Regions from separate parts of the Homo sapiens genome. Here region 1 is linked to region 2. A link means that fine-mapping ties the variant in region 2 to the expression of a gene that starts in the linked region. Tissue or cell type: whole blood. Region 2 holds a variant in brackets; the other region holds the start of a gene. All regions are shown on one strand. Distances are between the middles of the regions.

Region 1 (8,105 bases), 190 kb before region 2:
TGCCTCTTTGGAGGAAAGCAAGAGCTAAGGAGCCCCTCCTGTTTTAGTTGCACCTCCATCCCCTTTCTCCACCCTGCACCATTCCCTTACCCTCTATGTGAGGCAAAGCCTGAAGTCCCTCCTTCCCGCCCTCTCTCCTGCCCACTAGTAGATTACACTCCCTGCTGCAGTTACACCATGATGCCTCTGCCATGCTGACAACTAGTGTCACACAGGAGCGTAATCAGAAGCACCTGGCATTCAACCCCGGTACCGATGGCCCCCACCTTTTCATTTCAGGCTTCTTCCTCCAGAGTGCTTGAGGCTCCCTGGCCTCCTGGCCTCTCCCAGGTCCAAGGCGCTGACTCCAGCTCTTGGCTCCAACATTTACAGGAACACTGGGACTAAGAAAATCAATTGTGTTAATCAGCAAAACCCTCCACTTGAGATGCTATCCTAAAAGCAAACTATATGTAAAACACTTAACGTGGGGAGCTCTGTAATATGTTTCTTTTGTTACACGACCATCACACATTTGTCCGGAGTTTGGGGCTTTCAAACCACATAAGGTTTTATGTGATCGTTATAAAATCCCTTCATTTCCCAAAGGTAGGGTAGTAAGGATTAAGTTTGACTACTGAAGGCAGCTTTGTTGTAAGTGGTCTCTAATGTCACAAAAGTAGCTTGGGAAGACAGGCTTATTAAACAAATTTCTTGGGTTGCAAATCATTAGAAGCAATCGCATGTCATGTTCATTTGCTTAACCCGAAAGGTATCCATTTGGATGTTTAAAGAAACTATGCAGATTAACATTGTTCCCAGTGCCCACAAGAAAGCTGGCTGATCTTAAAGGAAATCCAGGGAGCTCCTTGAGGAAGTCGGACTGCAGTTGAGCATACCCTTTTGTGGTTTTCCCACCTCTTTTGTAAAAAGTTCTTCATAGGAATCTGTGTCTGGAGGAAAAGGGGTTGTGATTTGTTAATCTGAAGATGGGAGACCTCAAAGGAATCTCACCCAACCAGTCCTGCACTGTCATCCTATGAACAGAGAAGTCAGGTGGTTGCTCAGTGAGGGGCAGGGCTGGCACCACATCCGAGCCTCCCTGTCCTGTGTTCCTTACTCTTCAGTGGACCCGGCGACCTCCCGGCTTTGGAGCCATCCTGTGTTCCTTTAACAGTAGGACGAACACACAGGCGATGATGAGATTGTAATGGGACAAGGGGGAGAGGCGTGGGGAGCTCTTGATGAAAACTTGGGTTTTTGAAATTACCATGATGAAGGGAGGAGCTTGCACCAGCAGGTGTAAGGAGTGTGAGTTTGAGTTCTGCTCATCAGACAGCCTAAGCAGTCACATCCTTGAATCCTGGTCTTTTGCAGGCCAGTCCTTGGTCAGGTGGTGGCCTTTTTCCTCTTTCCCCTCTGCACTGAGACCCTTATTTGGCTCCTGATCCTGGAGCCCCTGACACAGTCCTTACCACTGAAGTAGCTGTGGCCCTTCACATAGTTCTTCCCACCACGCCAGCAAGGGGACTGAGTTCTTTCAGTACAGCCAGGGCCAGGTCCACACATCTCCCTGGGAAGCCAGCACTTTCTCTCGTGGACCGCCTCCCCATTCCCACAGGGCCCTCCTAAAGGGCCTTTGGATGACCACATTGGCCTTTCTTTCCTAGGGTGGGGAATTAGAGATGCTAAGACTGGCCAGTCTCTTTTTCTTAAGAGTTTAGGGATTCGTCTTAAAATATTATTCAGATAAACGTATGAGTCATGTGTTAACTGCAAAACTACTTAACAGCACACTTGTTAGAATATCAGTCGGCACTCTGATTCCATTTCGGCATTGTTTTTCCTTTGGTTCTATTAAGATCCCGGTTCTAACTGGGTCCTGGTAGTAACAGGCTGTAAGTGGCCAGGTGTATAGCATTATTTCTTAGTAGTGTGGTGTGGTGCTGGTGGTTTATTTTCCCTATGCACACATGCCCTAATATGGAAGGATAGTTTGTACACACGTAGGGTACGTTATCATGAGACTCCTTTACAGAGTATGAAACTGAGGATTAGAGAAGTCAGACGAGTTTCCCGAAGTCTTATAGAAGGCTAATGGAAAAAACCAGAGCCAAGGGCAAACATGTTTCATCTGTCCTTCCACATTAGTTTAAATGTGAATGGCTGCTTGGAACACAGTGTTGAGAAGGATTCCGAGGCTGTGTCCAGGTTCAGTGGGGAAAAAGTGCCTTGATTTGACCATTATATCGTGTACTCAGGGCCTAGTTTATTTCCCACAAGCAGCTATTTAAAACATGTCTCATCCAAGGCAGGGTCGGGGTGGGGAACCTCAGAGGATCAATGATGCAGCCTGTATTGTCACCAGGGCTCATCCCAAAGCAAATCCTGCTGAAGTTCTCCTCTGAACAACCCTTATCACTCATGCTAATATGTTGGATCCTGCAAGTCACAAATACGAAGGTATGAGCATTGGCCGAATCCCAACAGGGAAACTTCACCGGGAAGGTGAAGACCCCTTTCCATTAAGATAACAAACAGAACCTAGAAGGCCCGTAGCATGGTGGCTTAGAACATGTGGGCCTTGGATGGGATCCTGCCAAGGGGTGTGTGACCTCTCCGAAGCCTCCAGGGATGATACTACTCCCTGGGGTGCTTATGCCAACCACGTTAGAGACAATGGTTTCTGTACCCATTGCCTGGGGCTGCCATAATAAAGTGCCACACACTGAGTGGCTTAAAACAACAGAAACCTATTGTCTCACACTTCCGGGGGCCAGAAGTTTGAAACCCAGGTGTGTTAGGATCCTGCTCCCTCTGAAGGCTCCAGGGAAGAGTGTCCTCTGCTCCCTCCGAAGGCTCCAGGGAAGGGTCTGTCCTCTTAGGCTTCTGGTGGCTTGCAGGTGCAGCCCTCCAATCCTCCTCCCCAAGCGGCCTTCTGCCTATAAGGACACGAGTCATACTGGATGAGGGGCCCACTAATTGATGGCTTCTGTAAAGTCCCCATCTCCAAATAAGGTCACATTGTGAGGTACTGGGAGTTAGGACTCCAACATAGCTTCTCTGGTGGACACAATTCAACTCCTAATAACGTCCACACAACCCCAAGCAGGGCCTGGCACCCTGTGTGCTCTCTGGAGAGCGGCTGAGTCAGGCTCTGGCAGTGTCTAGGCCATCGGTGACTGCAGCCCCTGGACGGCATCGCCCACCACAGGCCCTGGAGGCTGCCCCCACGGCCCCCTGACAGGGTCTCTGCTGGTCTGGGGGTCCCTGACTAGGGGAGCGGCACCAGGAGGGGAGAGACTCGCGCTCCGGGCTCAGCGTAGCCGCCCCGAGCAGGACCGGGATTCTCACTAAGCGGGCGCCGTCCTACGACCCCCGCGCGCTTTCAGGACCACTCGGGCACGTGGCAGGTCGCTTGCACGCCCGCGGACTATCCCTGTGACAGGAAAAGGTACGGGCCATTTGGCAAACTAAGGCACAGAGCCTCAGGCGGAAGCTGGGAAGGCGCCGCCCGGCTTGTACCGGCCGAAGGGCCATCCGGGTCAGGCGCACAGGGCAGCGGCGCTGCCGGAGGACCAGGGCCGGCGTGCCGGCGTCCAGCGAGGATGCGCAGACTGCCTCAGGCCCGGCGCCGCCGCACAGGGCATGCGCCGACCCGGTCGGGCGGGAACACCCCGCCCCTCCCGGGCTCCGCCCCAGCTCCGCCCCCGCGCGCCCCGGCCCCGCCCCCGCGCGCTCTCTTGCTTTTCTCAGGTCCTCGGCTCCGCCCCGCTCTAGACCCCGCCCCACGCCGCCATCCCCGTGCCCCTCGGCCCCGCCCCCGCGCCCCGGATATGCTGGGACAGCCCGCGCCCCTAGAACGCTTTGCGTCCCGACGCCCGCAGGTCCTCGCGGTGCGCACCGTTTGCGACTTGGTGAGTGTCTGGGTCGCCTCGCTCCCGGAAGAGTGCGGAGCTCTCCCTCGGGACGGTGGCAGCCTCGAGTGGTCCTGCAGGCGCCCTCACTTCGCCGTCGGGTGTGGGGCCGCCCTGACCCCCACCCATCCCGGGCGAGCTCCAGGTGCGCCCCAAGTGCCTCCCAGGTGTTGCCCAGCCTTTCCCCGGGCCTGGGGTTCCTGGACTAGGCTGCGCTGCAGTGACTGTGGACTGGCGTGTGGCGGGGGTCGTGGCAGCCCCTGCCTTACCTCTAGGTGCCAGCCCCAGGCCCGGGCCCCGGGTTCTTCCTACCCTTCCATGCTGCCAGCTTTCCCTCCGCCAGCTGCTCCAGGAAGCTTCCAGAAGCCCCTGCGCGGGCCTTGGCTTGCAGCAACCCTTTAGCATACTTAGGCAGAGTCCCATATTTCCTTCCTGCTGGAGGCCAAGTTCTAGGGGCCTTCTGGTTACTATGGCTGGTGTTTGTGTACATCATACCCTAACTGTATTCATCAACACTTAGAGTAAGCAAGGCTCGCTGGAGAGCCACACACACTGGGCACCGTAATGTCGGTTATAACACCGCAGAGGAGTTCTGAACTATGTATTTCGCACTCCTGGGTTCATCATCTCCTGAAATCTCAGGGTGGTGTTTGCTCTCAGTTGCTTCAGCTGAGTAGCTGGCTTTCTGTCCTGGAAAGCAGACTTTGTACATGTGTGTGCAACCTATGCCTGCTGAGATCATCATCAGACAGGGAAGCGGCTTGGTCCAGAGAGCTGTTCTCAGTAGAATGTTAAGCACAGAGAGCTGAGAATTAGACTGGTTATTTACATAGACATCCAAATAGAAACCTATAGAGTATCTGTTAAGTCAGGCTCTCCCGTCATCTCCCCCATCCCTGGGCAGGTGTCTAGGAGATGGTTTTGTTATTTTCAGGGCCCTCTCAATGGCTAAAACACTCTGGGAGATGAACAAGATTTTAAAAACCCAAAGCTTAGCGCACCTGGTGGGTGGGGGTGTGAAAACTTTGAAGGAAACCGCGTCAAGAGCCTGGCTGATTGTTAATATCACGTTAACTCAGAGGGCCAGGATACTTGCCCAGACCCGGAGTCTGCCTGCAAGTAGCAGAGGAGAGCTGGCCTTGCTCTGCCGCGTGTCTTTCTTCCTGGGCCCTCTGTCTCGGGTTGGAATTTGAATAGTGGAGTAGTGTCTGCCACAGTCAGGGGCCTGGATGAAGTAGACCACCAGTACGGAGCTATACTCAGGTACTTTTCAATGTATATATCTTCATTAAAAAAAAAAAATCTGGGCCAGGCACAGTGGGTCACGCCTGTAATCTCAGCACTTTGGGAGGCCGAGGTGGGTGGATCACCTGAAGTCAGGAGTTTGAGACCAGCCTGGCCAACATGGTGAAACCCAGTTTCTACTAAAAACACAAAAATTATCCAGGCGTGGTGGTGCATGCTGGTAATCCCAGTTACTTGGGAGACTGAGGCAGGAGAATTGCTTGAACCTGGGAGGCGGAGGTTGCAGTGAGCCGAGATTGCGCCATTGCACTCCAACCTGGGCGACGAGAGTGAAACTGTCCTGAAGGGGAAACAAAAAAATCTGTATCAAAATAAGGATTTAACTAATAGTATTAGGCACTACTTTAAAAAGGCTTTGCTGTTAGTAAGGTTGAAAGAAATAGAGCCCTAGGTATACATTGGGTAGCACCTTGTTCAGCTGCTCAGATTCTTGAACCTTGTTGAGGTCTTACTTTGATATCACCTGGGCCTTACTTTTCGTTGTTTGGGTTTCCTCCCCAGGTGTCTCAATCAGGGCCTCCTCTGTCCTTTTGCAGGGAAGAAGGGGGTAGGAAGGGCCTGAAAAAGAACTTGCCTTCCCCATTGCCCCCTCAGAGTTTGTTCCTCTCCAGTCCTCTTCCCACCCTTTCTTAGGACACCAAAACCCTGACTCTTTCAGTATTTTATAATAAAATAAAGTTACTAAATTGTCTGTTCTGTTTTGCAGAGGACACACATTTAGGAGCCAGTGATTCAGACCTTCCATTTTTCTTTTTGGTGCTAATGCTCTTTTCAGTATATTCTCTTTGATAGAAAAAAAATGGAGGCAAAACTGAATTTTCTGCATTATCTTTTCCTTTAGCATTATTCTTGTTTCTGCACTTCATTCTGACCCCCTTCCCCAGCATAAAGTTCCATGTCCAGATCCACTTGCCCTGAGATTTTTGACTTCCGTTTGGGACTCTAGTCCCTCCAGGGGACACATTGAGCCTCCCAGACCCTGCAGGGCCCTGTGCTCATTCGGCTCTTGGGCTGTTGCTACGGTCCTTCCTGACCCTCTGTTTCCTGGGACAAGTAGTTTTTAATGCAGCTACTTTCTGAAAGAGCTGGGGTCTTACCGCAGAATATTATTTTATTATTTTTAGAGACAAGGTCTTGGTCTTTCGCCCAGGCTGGAGTGCAGTGGTGAGATCATAGCTCCCTGCAGCCTCAAGCTCCTGGGCTCAAGCGAACCTCCTGCTTTGACCTCCCAAGTACCAGGGACTACAGGTGTGCGCCACCATACCTGGCTAATTGTTGTTGTTGTTGTTTTTAGAGGCCAGGGTCTCCGTATGTTGCCTAGGGTGGTCTCGAACTCCTGGACTCAAGTGATCTTCCCTCCTAGGCCTCCCAAAGTGCTGGAATTATAGGCATGAGCCACCATGCCTGGCCTCGCAGGATATTATTTAAACGAAACCTGAAGGATTTAAAATCAGAGAAGACACATAAACCATCACCTGACTGTGGGGTGAGAGTGGTCTTTATATAGACACTCATGATGCACAAGCCAGCCCTTCGCCCCACTCTTGTTTTGAAGTGAAAGGATTTATATGGGAGGGAGGAGGTTTGAGCTGTGCAGGAGGGTCCTTGGTTGGCATGAGGATTTTGTGAACCTACGCTGTTAGCTCTGCAGGCCTGTCTTGGACATAGGTAAGTAGAAGTTGGAGACCTTGTGTTGTGGACCAAATGTTGCAAGATGTGTGTTCTGTGGCTTTTCATTAACTGCTGCATATCTGCTGGTTGGTGGACATAGTCTAGTTTTCTTTTGACTTAAAAAAATTAACAGTACAGCTTATATCGGAGGGCTGCATAGTTTGGGGGAAACTAATGAATATAGTATGGAATGTAATGAATGACTGACTTCTTCATAGAGCTATTGAAGTGATTTATGAAGAGGAAGAAATCATTTTTGTGACTTTGTTGATCTTTGAAGTATTAGAGTGGCTTTGGCAGGTGTGGATCACCCGGAAAGGAATCAAACACTGAGTCCTGCCAAGGTGCTCGGTCCCGGCAGCAAAGCCAGTCCTCAGCAGCCTGCGCTCCCGAAGCTCCTCCAGCTAAGTAACTGAATAGGCCGCCCTGGGAGCTGCCCATGCGGATGCTCTGAATGGTGAAACTTGGTTTTGACACCACAAGTTGTTTTCAGTTAAATCAGTGGCTCAGCAGCAGAGCAGGGTTCTCCAAGGAGGCCTCGTGTCCCCTTCACCCCACCTGGAGGTAGCTGTTCTAAAACCAGTAAAAAATTCTACAAAAACATTTTCTTAGGGTTGTTAAATTAGTCATAGTGTGTGTAACCATGAAAGGAATGGTGAGAGTGCAATAAATGCCTGGTGTGTTCACTCTCCTACTCCTAAAAGTTTCTTGGTAGAATAATTTCCTACCTGTGATGCTTGCGAAGTCAGCAGAGGCTCCCACCCAGCCCTGCCGCCCATTCCCAGAAGTCTGGGCTGGGGGACACCGAATGGATAGTCCACCAGCGGCGTGGCTTGTGAAAGGAGGTACTTGTTAAATCTATGTGTTTTTATTATAGACATCGTTCTGCCAGTCGCAATAATGTGTTTATGGACATTTTTCTGCAAGCACAGCGCGGGTGGCAGTTTTTACTGACAAATTGAGTCATATGCATAGAGGTTTAGAAAGCGCTTGCCTTATTGACGGATCAGGCAATTCTGGCACGGGATGTTCAGAGATATTTAGGTGGGTGAAGAGAGTGAATGAATCTCAGGGCAGAGAAGGAGATGGGGCATTATATGTTGAAATGCAATAAATAATCGCTAGTTATTTATCATTTGTTTTTAAACTTTTAGCTACATTGTACTTCCCAGTCAAGAGGACTCCGGTGGGCAGCCGGGGATATCATGTTCAGGTGTCTCTCCTGCTTGTGTG
Region 2 (8,105 bases):
ACTAATCAAGGCTGCTCCCTCTACAAAACACTGAGTGGCCCCCAGGCCGAGGTGCTGCAGAGATGGCCCGTGTGGGAGGGGTAACGCCTGCAAACCCGACCCTGATCACCAATGGAGTGGCCTCACGTGGCCTCCCTGATGGTGGCCCTTGACTGTGGTCAGCACTGGACTGGCCCACCCTATGAGATGTCTCAGGCAGCTTGCAAGATTACATCATGTGATGGCCAATGCTTCTGCTAAACAAGAGGCAGGGAGCCGAATGGACAGGCCTCAGGAAGCACAGCGTGGTGGCCGTCACAGCCTTCTGGGAAGGCTATTTCTGCATCACTGAGGCCCCACAGCCCAGGGTGTTTAGGATGAAGGGCACAGATTTCCAGATGTGAAGAGTGTCAGGTGGGCTAGGGGCAGGAGAAGCATGAGGAGGACCCTGTGCTGGGGATGAGAGGAGAGCGGCCCTGCAGTCAAGGGGCCAGGTGGAGCCACCTTTGGGGATGCGGGGAGAACTTGGTGGCCCTCAGAGACCCCTGCTTGGAGACCCCACCTCCCCCTTGACAAGACTGCGGCCTGTGCTGGGCACAGCTGGCCCAGAGCGAGGGCCACACCCTACTACTGCACCCTCCACGCCTGTCTGTCCTTGCCCACCTCGGTGGCTGCCTCGCCGACCCCCGCCTTGCAGCTGGAGTAGCTGTGCTGATAAAGATGCAGGTGGGAAGCTGGATGGTGAGGTAGCCCATCTGTGGTTTGGGATCCGAGAAGACGGCAAGACCTCAGCTTCATGAGAAGAGAGACCTGAAGATCCATGCTGGGGAAGGGCGAGGATGGAAAGGGGTGCAGGGCGTGGAGCAGGTGCCCAGGTCGGGTACAGAGACAGGCCTGGGACCTGGAGGACCTGCACGCGGGGTCGGGCACCTGCCACACTCTCCCATGTCTTTGAAGCCTCTTGTGGTAGAAGAGAAGGTGCTCATATTTTACCTTCTGTGCCTTAGTATGTAGTTTGGTATTGTGTTAAGTGGACAGAAATCACATACCCCTGCTCACTCTGAGCCTGCATCCTTTGACCGTCACTGTGAACCTCAGATCGAGACACCAGCCTCAGCGGGGGCTGAGATAGGGCATTCCCCATTCCCACTGGCTGCTTGGAGGGCTGTGAGGGACCTGCTGCCTGGAGCACAGGGCCTGTATGGGTGGGTAAGTCCCTGGAGAGACAGGAGGAGGCAGGGGTGTGCAAGCCTCTTGAGGTATGAGGAAGGTGGCCGGGGTCTCGGGAAGCTTGTCTGGCCCTGGCAGGCAGGACAAGGGCCCCCTCCTGCCCATACCTCTACCTTAGGCCCCTTGTCATGACACGTGATACCTGAGGGTGGGGGGCTGTATGGGCATTTGGAATGTGACGGCACAAGCCACAGTGGGTCACTTGTTTCTACAAATGCCTGAGAAGAAAACTATTCTTCTAACTCAGAGAAGTGGGATTTCCCACTGAAAATCAGTGGAAATCACTTATAATGGTCTTTGCAAATTCCTTGCATCTAAGGAAGTGCCTGTGGAGCAGCAGTGGGAGGAAACCATTCAGGCTCGATGGAGAGGGTGACCGCTGCACCCTCATCCCTGGTGTCAGCACACTACCGAGGTGCTCCTGGTTTAAGGACGTTTGTGCACCCACCCGGAGGTATGCATGGAAAGAAAGCACTGCAGCCATTCCCCAGCCAGTGTAGGGGTGGGACACAGTCCCGTGGGGGCCCCGCGGAGGGCCTGGGCAGATGCAGGGCTGCGCACTGCCGTGGTTTCCTGTGTGTCTGCCAGGAGTGAAGACCTGAGCAGCCTCACTGGCCTGGTGTGGAGGGGCCGCCTCCGAGCATGCGGAGAAGTGGTTTGCATGGCTGGAAGTCAATGTTTATCTGTCTTTAGACTCAGTTGAAGACACATTTCTTTCACACATTACCATTTTTAAAACCCATTAAGGTCTGATTTTCCAAGGCGCTGACCCTGACGCTTCTAGAGGGCCTCATCCCGGAAGCTGGTGGGGAGAGCAGGAAAATCTTCCCCGTTGAGTTTTAAACGTCCAGACCTTTGTTGTCTCCTTGTGACCCTTGCAGGAGAGCTCTCGTGGCTTCTGTGCATGTTCGTGTGTGACTCGCCCGGCTGAGGGACTGGCATAAACAAACAGGGATGAGTTTGTAAAACACTTTGTAATCCCTTGAAAAGGAGAAAAATATAAATGAAAATCACTGTTTAACAGTGAAGGCAGGAAGGGAGCTGTTCCTCAGTATAGCTGTGGGTTGTCGTTACGTGAGCAGGAGGGAATTTCACTTTGGATGGATTTGGATTTTCTCTTCATGCTCATGCTCTCTAAATCTTGCAAAAGCACATGGTAAACACACAGCGCATGTGTTTCTGGAGGAAACGCACAGTGTCCATATAGAGCAGGCACTGATTTTGCACTGAAAGAACGTGGATGAGAAGTTCCACGTGTTTAAATAAACTGGCAACAGCGGTCCCAGATAGCTTAGCCGGGCAGCAGTCAGAGGTGCCCTGGCCTGGGGACTGAGCTAAGGTCTCAGAAGGGTCAGCTAGCCAAGCTCTTCACCGGACAACCCCTGAATTAACCAGACACATCACAGATGCAGACTGTTGATTCCAGGGAACCCAGGTGAAAGGCCAAGGAGAGGTGAGGTAGTTGGTGCGGTGCCCCTCCTGGAGTCCCTTCAGGACTATGGCACTACAGTTCTATGTAAGCTGTCACCCAGGACTCATCTTCAGTGGAGTCTGGACTGCAGTCGGGAGGTGACAAACATCCATGGCATGAGGGCAGCAAGAGCCCCTCTCTTGGGAACCAGTTGTGGCCACTATCTGCCCAGTGAACATGGGCTTCAGCCCCGAGCATGGGAGGGCTCCTGGTTGGGCATCTCCCTGGGAGTTCCTTGGTACTGCCTCCTGCAGGGTGAGGAGGGGTGGGGCCTACTTCCAGGCCTCTGGAAGCAGCATCGGCATGTCCTTTCTGGTGTGAACTCCAAATATCTGAGATGGTCTCAGTTAATTTAGAAAGTTTATTTTGCCAAGATTAAGGACATGCGCCTGTGACCCAGCCTCAGGAGGTCCTGATGACACGTGCCCCAGGTGGTCGGGGCACCGCTTGGTTTTATAGATTTTAGAGAGACATGATACATCAATTAATATATGTAAGAAGTACATTGGTTCTGTCCAGAAAGGCAGGGACAACTCGAAGCAGGGAAGGGGCTTCCAGGTCACAGGTAGGTGAGAGTCAAGTGGTTGCACCGAGTTTCTGATAAGCCTCTCCAAAGGAGGCAATCAGAGATGTCTTTCTCTCTGTGAGCAGAGGGATGACTGAATACAACGGGAGGCAGGTTGGCCCTGAGCAGTTTCCAGCTTGACTTTCCCCTTTAGATTAGTAATTTGGGGGCCCCAAGGTTCTCCTTTCATGCTGGGAGGAGGGTTTTTCCACACGTCTCAGACCCAACTCTCGGGCTTCTTAACCCAAAAGAACTTCCACGCAGAAGGCAGCGAAAATAGTGCACTTCATTTTCTAAGACATCTAAAGCTGCCACAATGACTGTGAGTTAGGTGAGCTCTATGAATTAGGCTAGGGATTTGCAACCACTTAGCAAGTTCTAAGTAACTGTAAAAGATCCCATAGACTGCAAATTGTGTTTCATTTGGGGACAGATACCCTGTCTTGGGGATTTAAGTGTGTTTACCTGCCCAGAGTTGACACAGACGACTGTCCCTTAGCTTCCTTTCCTCATGCTGGTTTTAAGTGCTTCGAATCGGGATTTTCCTACCCATCTGATGCATTCCATTGAAAATTCAGGAATACACATGTATGTGACTGTTTATTGGCAAGTAATTGTGAAATAGGCCAGAAATCTACCAGCTTCCTTTAATTAATGTAACAAATACTTAGCAAGGACCTCCTGCATTCTAGGGATTGTGGGGGTGGGGGGGGGAGCAACAAACAAAACAGATAAACCCTGCCCTGAGGCGCCCCTTGTCTTGTCTGGGGGTGGAGGTGGGGCAGGCGTGAGACAGAAGAAACAGGTAAAATACAGTTCAAAGTCAGGTGCTGGTCAGTGTCTTGGAGAATTCTAAAGCAGGGAGGAGGGATGGGGTGAGTTTTAAATGTGGTGACTGCTGAAGAAATGGCCTCTGACAGCCTGGAGGAGGAGCTGGAGCTGGGGGGGGGACAGGCTGGCCAGCTCCTCCAACACACACACACACACACACACACACACACACGCACACACACACACACACACACCCCCTCTCCCCCAAGGACCCACAAGGACTGCGGCCTCTTAGCGTGTGTGGAGTCATCACACTGACCCTTAGCAGTGTGGCCTGACTTCATGAGGCCCCCGTTGTCATGGAGA[T/C]GCTGGGAATGGGAGGATTTGCCACCCTCCAGTGAGGAGCCCCCATCCCATGAGTGCAAAGCCTGAACCGGCCCTTCCCTAATTGGCACCTCTATCCTATTTTCTTTGGCTGAGGAAATTCTCGTAAATGTATATTTAATGTGGTGTTGAGATTGGTAGTTCTCCCCCATCCCCCAAAGATCATCAAATCTCTGGGGGTCTTTCAAAACCTAAAGGTGATCTCCCTGGTCCTATTATGCTGTTTTGTTTTTGCTTCTTTTCTTTTTCTTGAAAGACCTAATTGTGGAGTTTTTTCCCCCTTCTATGAATCCCAAGTAAGGAACTAAAATGGAAGACGGGCTTCTGGCTCCCGCTGCAGCAGATGGGATAATTCTACAGGTGATTGCCCTGGAGGTCTGCAAGGGAGGGAGAGCGGCACCATTAGACTAACACAGCTCTATTATTGACTAATGACGAACAGCGTCGCCTTGCCTTGCCACCTTAAAACAGACACAGGGATTTGCTACTCTATTTGTTTTATAAAATATGCATTGAGAGCAACACCAAAATGCTGAATGACAGGTGACCCTCAGAGCACGCCTGGTATGCACTGCGTTAGCTTGCCAGTATTTCTTAGAGACTTATTTGATTCTAATTCAGTAGGATTTTTAACCCCAACATTTTGAAATCTTGCTTTGAAAGTCCATGTTATTCCCATTAACGTCAGTGAGTTTTTCACATATCTAAATATCTAATATCATGCTTTGAGAATTGAAGCCCAGCCTGCTCTTTAAAAGCAAGGGAGCTCACCACATCCTGGAGTTCTGCAGTGATTTGACATGTCCTGGAAGAAATTATCTTCGCAAGAAAGTAAGTTTAGTTGATTGAAATGAAATTAACACCACATTTCTGTGTCATAATGTATTAACCTGATTGGCTAGCTGGATTCCAGCCTGTTTACAAACATCCTGAAGCCTAGATGGCCCCTTCCTCAGTGTCCTTAACTGCTGTTCTCGCCCTTAGCTCGCGTGCCCAACCCTAAGGCTGAAAACGCCCCCTGTAGGCTACTGTAAGCTGTAGCATTCAAGGCCTCCCAGGTGTCGCTGTAATTTCTTGTATACATTTTAGCTCCATCTGTGGCATAGGTACCATTCAATGTTATCTTAATACACTAGCTTTGGATTTTGTGGCTGCAACAATAACAAAAAAAAATCCTTGGTTCTGATGACTTCATGTTGTTTCAGAAGATACTCAAGGCCGGGTGCAGTGGCTCACACCTGTAATCCCAACACTTTGGGAGGCCGAGGCAGGTGGATTACCTAAGGTCAGGAGTTCGAGACCAGCCTGGCCAACACAGTGAAACCCCATCTCTACTAAAAATACAAAACTTACCTGGGCATGGTGGTGCACACCCGTAGTCTCAGCTACTCGGGAGGCTGAGGCAGGAGAATTGCTTGAACCTGGGAGGCGGAGGTTGCAGTGAGCCAAGATCGCACCACTGCGCTCCAGCCTGGGTGGCAGAGCGAGACTCCCTGTGTGGAAAAAAAAAAAAAAGATACTCAGATGTAGCTGTCTCTGCCTGGGTTGTTTTCTAAATGCGTTTGGCTGGAGATAGAACAGATCCTGCCTCTATCCACGGCGTAAGGGAGTTAGCTTCATGGCAAGCTCTCTGGAGAACACAGGCCATTGTACCTGCTCATGAGAACAGAAGTGAAAGTCACACAGCATGCATATTAGTTCCGAGGCTACTGGCATTATTATTTAATGATGAGTTAGTGCAAATTGAGGGGTGAGGAAGTAGCATGTACAAAGGCCCTGAAGATGAATGACTGTGTGAAATTTTGAAGAGCAGTTTAGCCCGAAAATATTCCATGAGTAGCTGCCAGGAGAGCTTTTCTGGAACAGTATTAAACTTTAGAAAAAGTGTTCTGACATTTATAGACTGACACGAAAACAGAAGTAAAAGTCTAAATTGAACCAAAGTCCTCCTTAAAGATTGCCTTTGAAATTGAGTAATGGCGGATGCCCAGCACCTGATGTTTGGGCACGGGCGACAGGACGTAGGGTGGTCATCCGAATATCCCTGCCCCACTCCCCAGCTCTCTATGGCATTAGTAGATGCTGGAAGATGAGGCCGTGTTTTCTCTTTCATCACCCGTGCAGTGAAGGATTTGCGTGGTCTTTGGTGCTTTTCTTCTAAATAATGAACAATTATTTCTTGCGACATTTTGGTTTTTTACTGCCAATTCCAACAGCCATTTGTCTTTTCAGAGCTAAGTTTATAACTTCCTCCTTTCTCTCCTGTCACTTTTACCCCATTCTGATTTTTCATCTCCCTGCCAATTGTGGTTTCGTTTCTGAGCACTCATTTATTAATCCTTCTTTTTCATTTCCCAGAACACGTGCTGGTGTAAATCTTTTTGCAGTTAAAGTATTACATTAACCTTTTTGATAGCATGGGGTGGTATCTCGGCGGATGGGCGAGTGCTGTTCGCCTGTGGTCTGTCTCAGGGGTTCTAGTTGGAAGGCGTCCTGCAGCCATTTCTTCAGAGGCTAAGGTGTGGGGGAGCACCTTGGGGAAGAAGAAAACATAGTTTCTGCCCTTACAAAGCTGATACCCCATCAAACTTGAGATTAAAACAGACAAAAAACCCAAGAACCTACAGAGCACTGCAGAGAGGCCTTGGGACCCTCTGACAGAGTCAGTGGGGAGTCGGCTGGGAAGGGCAGCTTTTCTGTCCCAGCAGCCTTGCTTCCTCTTCAGCATGCTGAGGGACATGGAGCCCTCCACCATTATCTGAATTGATTCCATCTTTCTCTCCTGCCTCTGCTGTGGGTTTCCATAATGTGAAATTAATGCATGTGCTTAGGTTGCGGGGGGCCAACCCCTCAGAAATATGCAAAGACTTCAAGGGAGACCTTTTCTTTTCACAAAGAGGAAGATCCCCCACCCCCAACACACACACACACACACACACACGCACACACATGCACAGTTTGCATAGCCGGAGTAGGGAGTATCTCTTTCTGGGGAATGTTCGTATGTCACTGTTGATTTTACATTGTTTTTCCTTTCTTTGACTTGAAAATTTTTAAAGTAACACAAATTTATTATTTTAAAAACTTCAACTCTGGAAGTACAGCCGTAAAATCCTCTTTCCAGAAGCAATCAGTCTTAGTCCTTTGGAATGCAACCTTATAAATCTGTTTCTGTTGTAAATATACTTCCCTGTTCTTACCTGCCTTTACCTGGAGAGTACATAGTATATTCTTTTGTGAGTAGGACTTTAACTTCCTAATATATCATAGGCTTTCCGCAGCTGGTTCTGTATTATGGATTACTGTAATTTATTAACTTTTCCCACTTTGAGTGGAAATTTAGTTTATTTCCAACTTTTTTTTTTTGCTTTTATGGTGTTATGAACATTTGTGTATGTCTGTATTTCTGTGCTGTGTGCAAGTATTTCTGTGGGATAGACGTCTAGGAGAGGAATTGTTTGGCCGAAGGGCATACACATTTAAATGTTCACGGATGCAGCCCAGACCCCCCTCATAAGGCTGTACCAACTCATACTCTCAGCAGTAATAAAGACGCGTCCATTTCTCACACCTCTGCAGAGGATTTCTAAAATGGCTTTTTATTTTTCAAAAAGCTTACATTTGACAACTATTGATGTTGTGCAACTTTCTGTGTTTATTAGCCAATTATATTTTTTTCTCCTTTGATTTACTTATACATATTCT

The links. PIP is the estimated chance that this variant, and not a neighbour inherited with it, causes the effect.
Region 1: it holds the start of MGMT, and the variant in region 2 is fine-mapped to the expression of MGMT in whole blood (INTERVAL, PIP 0.96).

The regions. Positions count from the first base shown.
Region 1 is chr10:129,463,401-129,471,505 of GRCh38, forward strand. It overlaps MGMT (O-6-methylguanine-DNA methyltransferase), which reads left to right and starts at 3,841. Exons shown (of 5, transcript NM_002412.5): 1 at 3,841-3,896. RefSeq lists silencers at 3,481-3,920, 3,941-4,140 and an enhancer at 3,707-4,629.
Region 2 is chr10:129,653,459-129,661,563 of GRCh38, forward strand. All of the region lies in intron 2 of MGMT (O-6-methylguanine-DNA methyltransferase), which reads left to right. Among named protein-coding and RNA genes, the nearest start is that of MIR4297, 190 kb to the right of the region's middle. The variant T/C (reference allele first, on the strand shown) is at 4,383.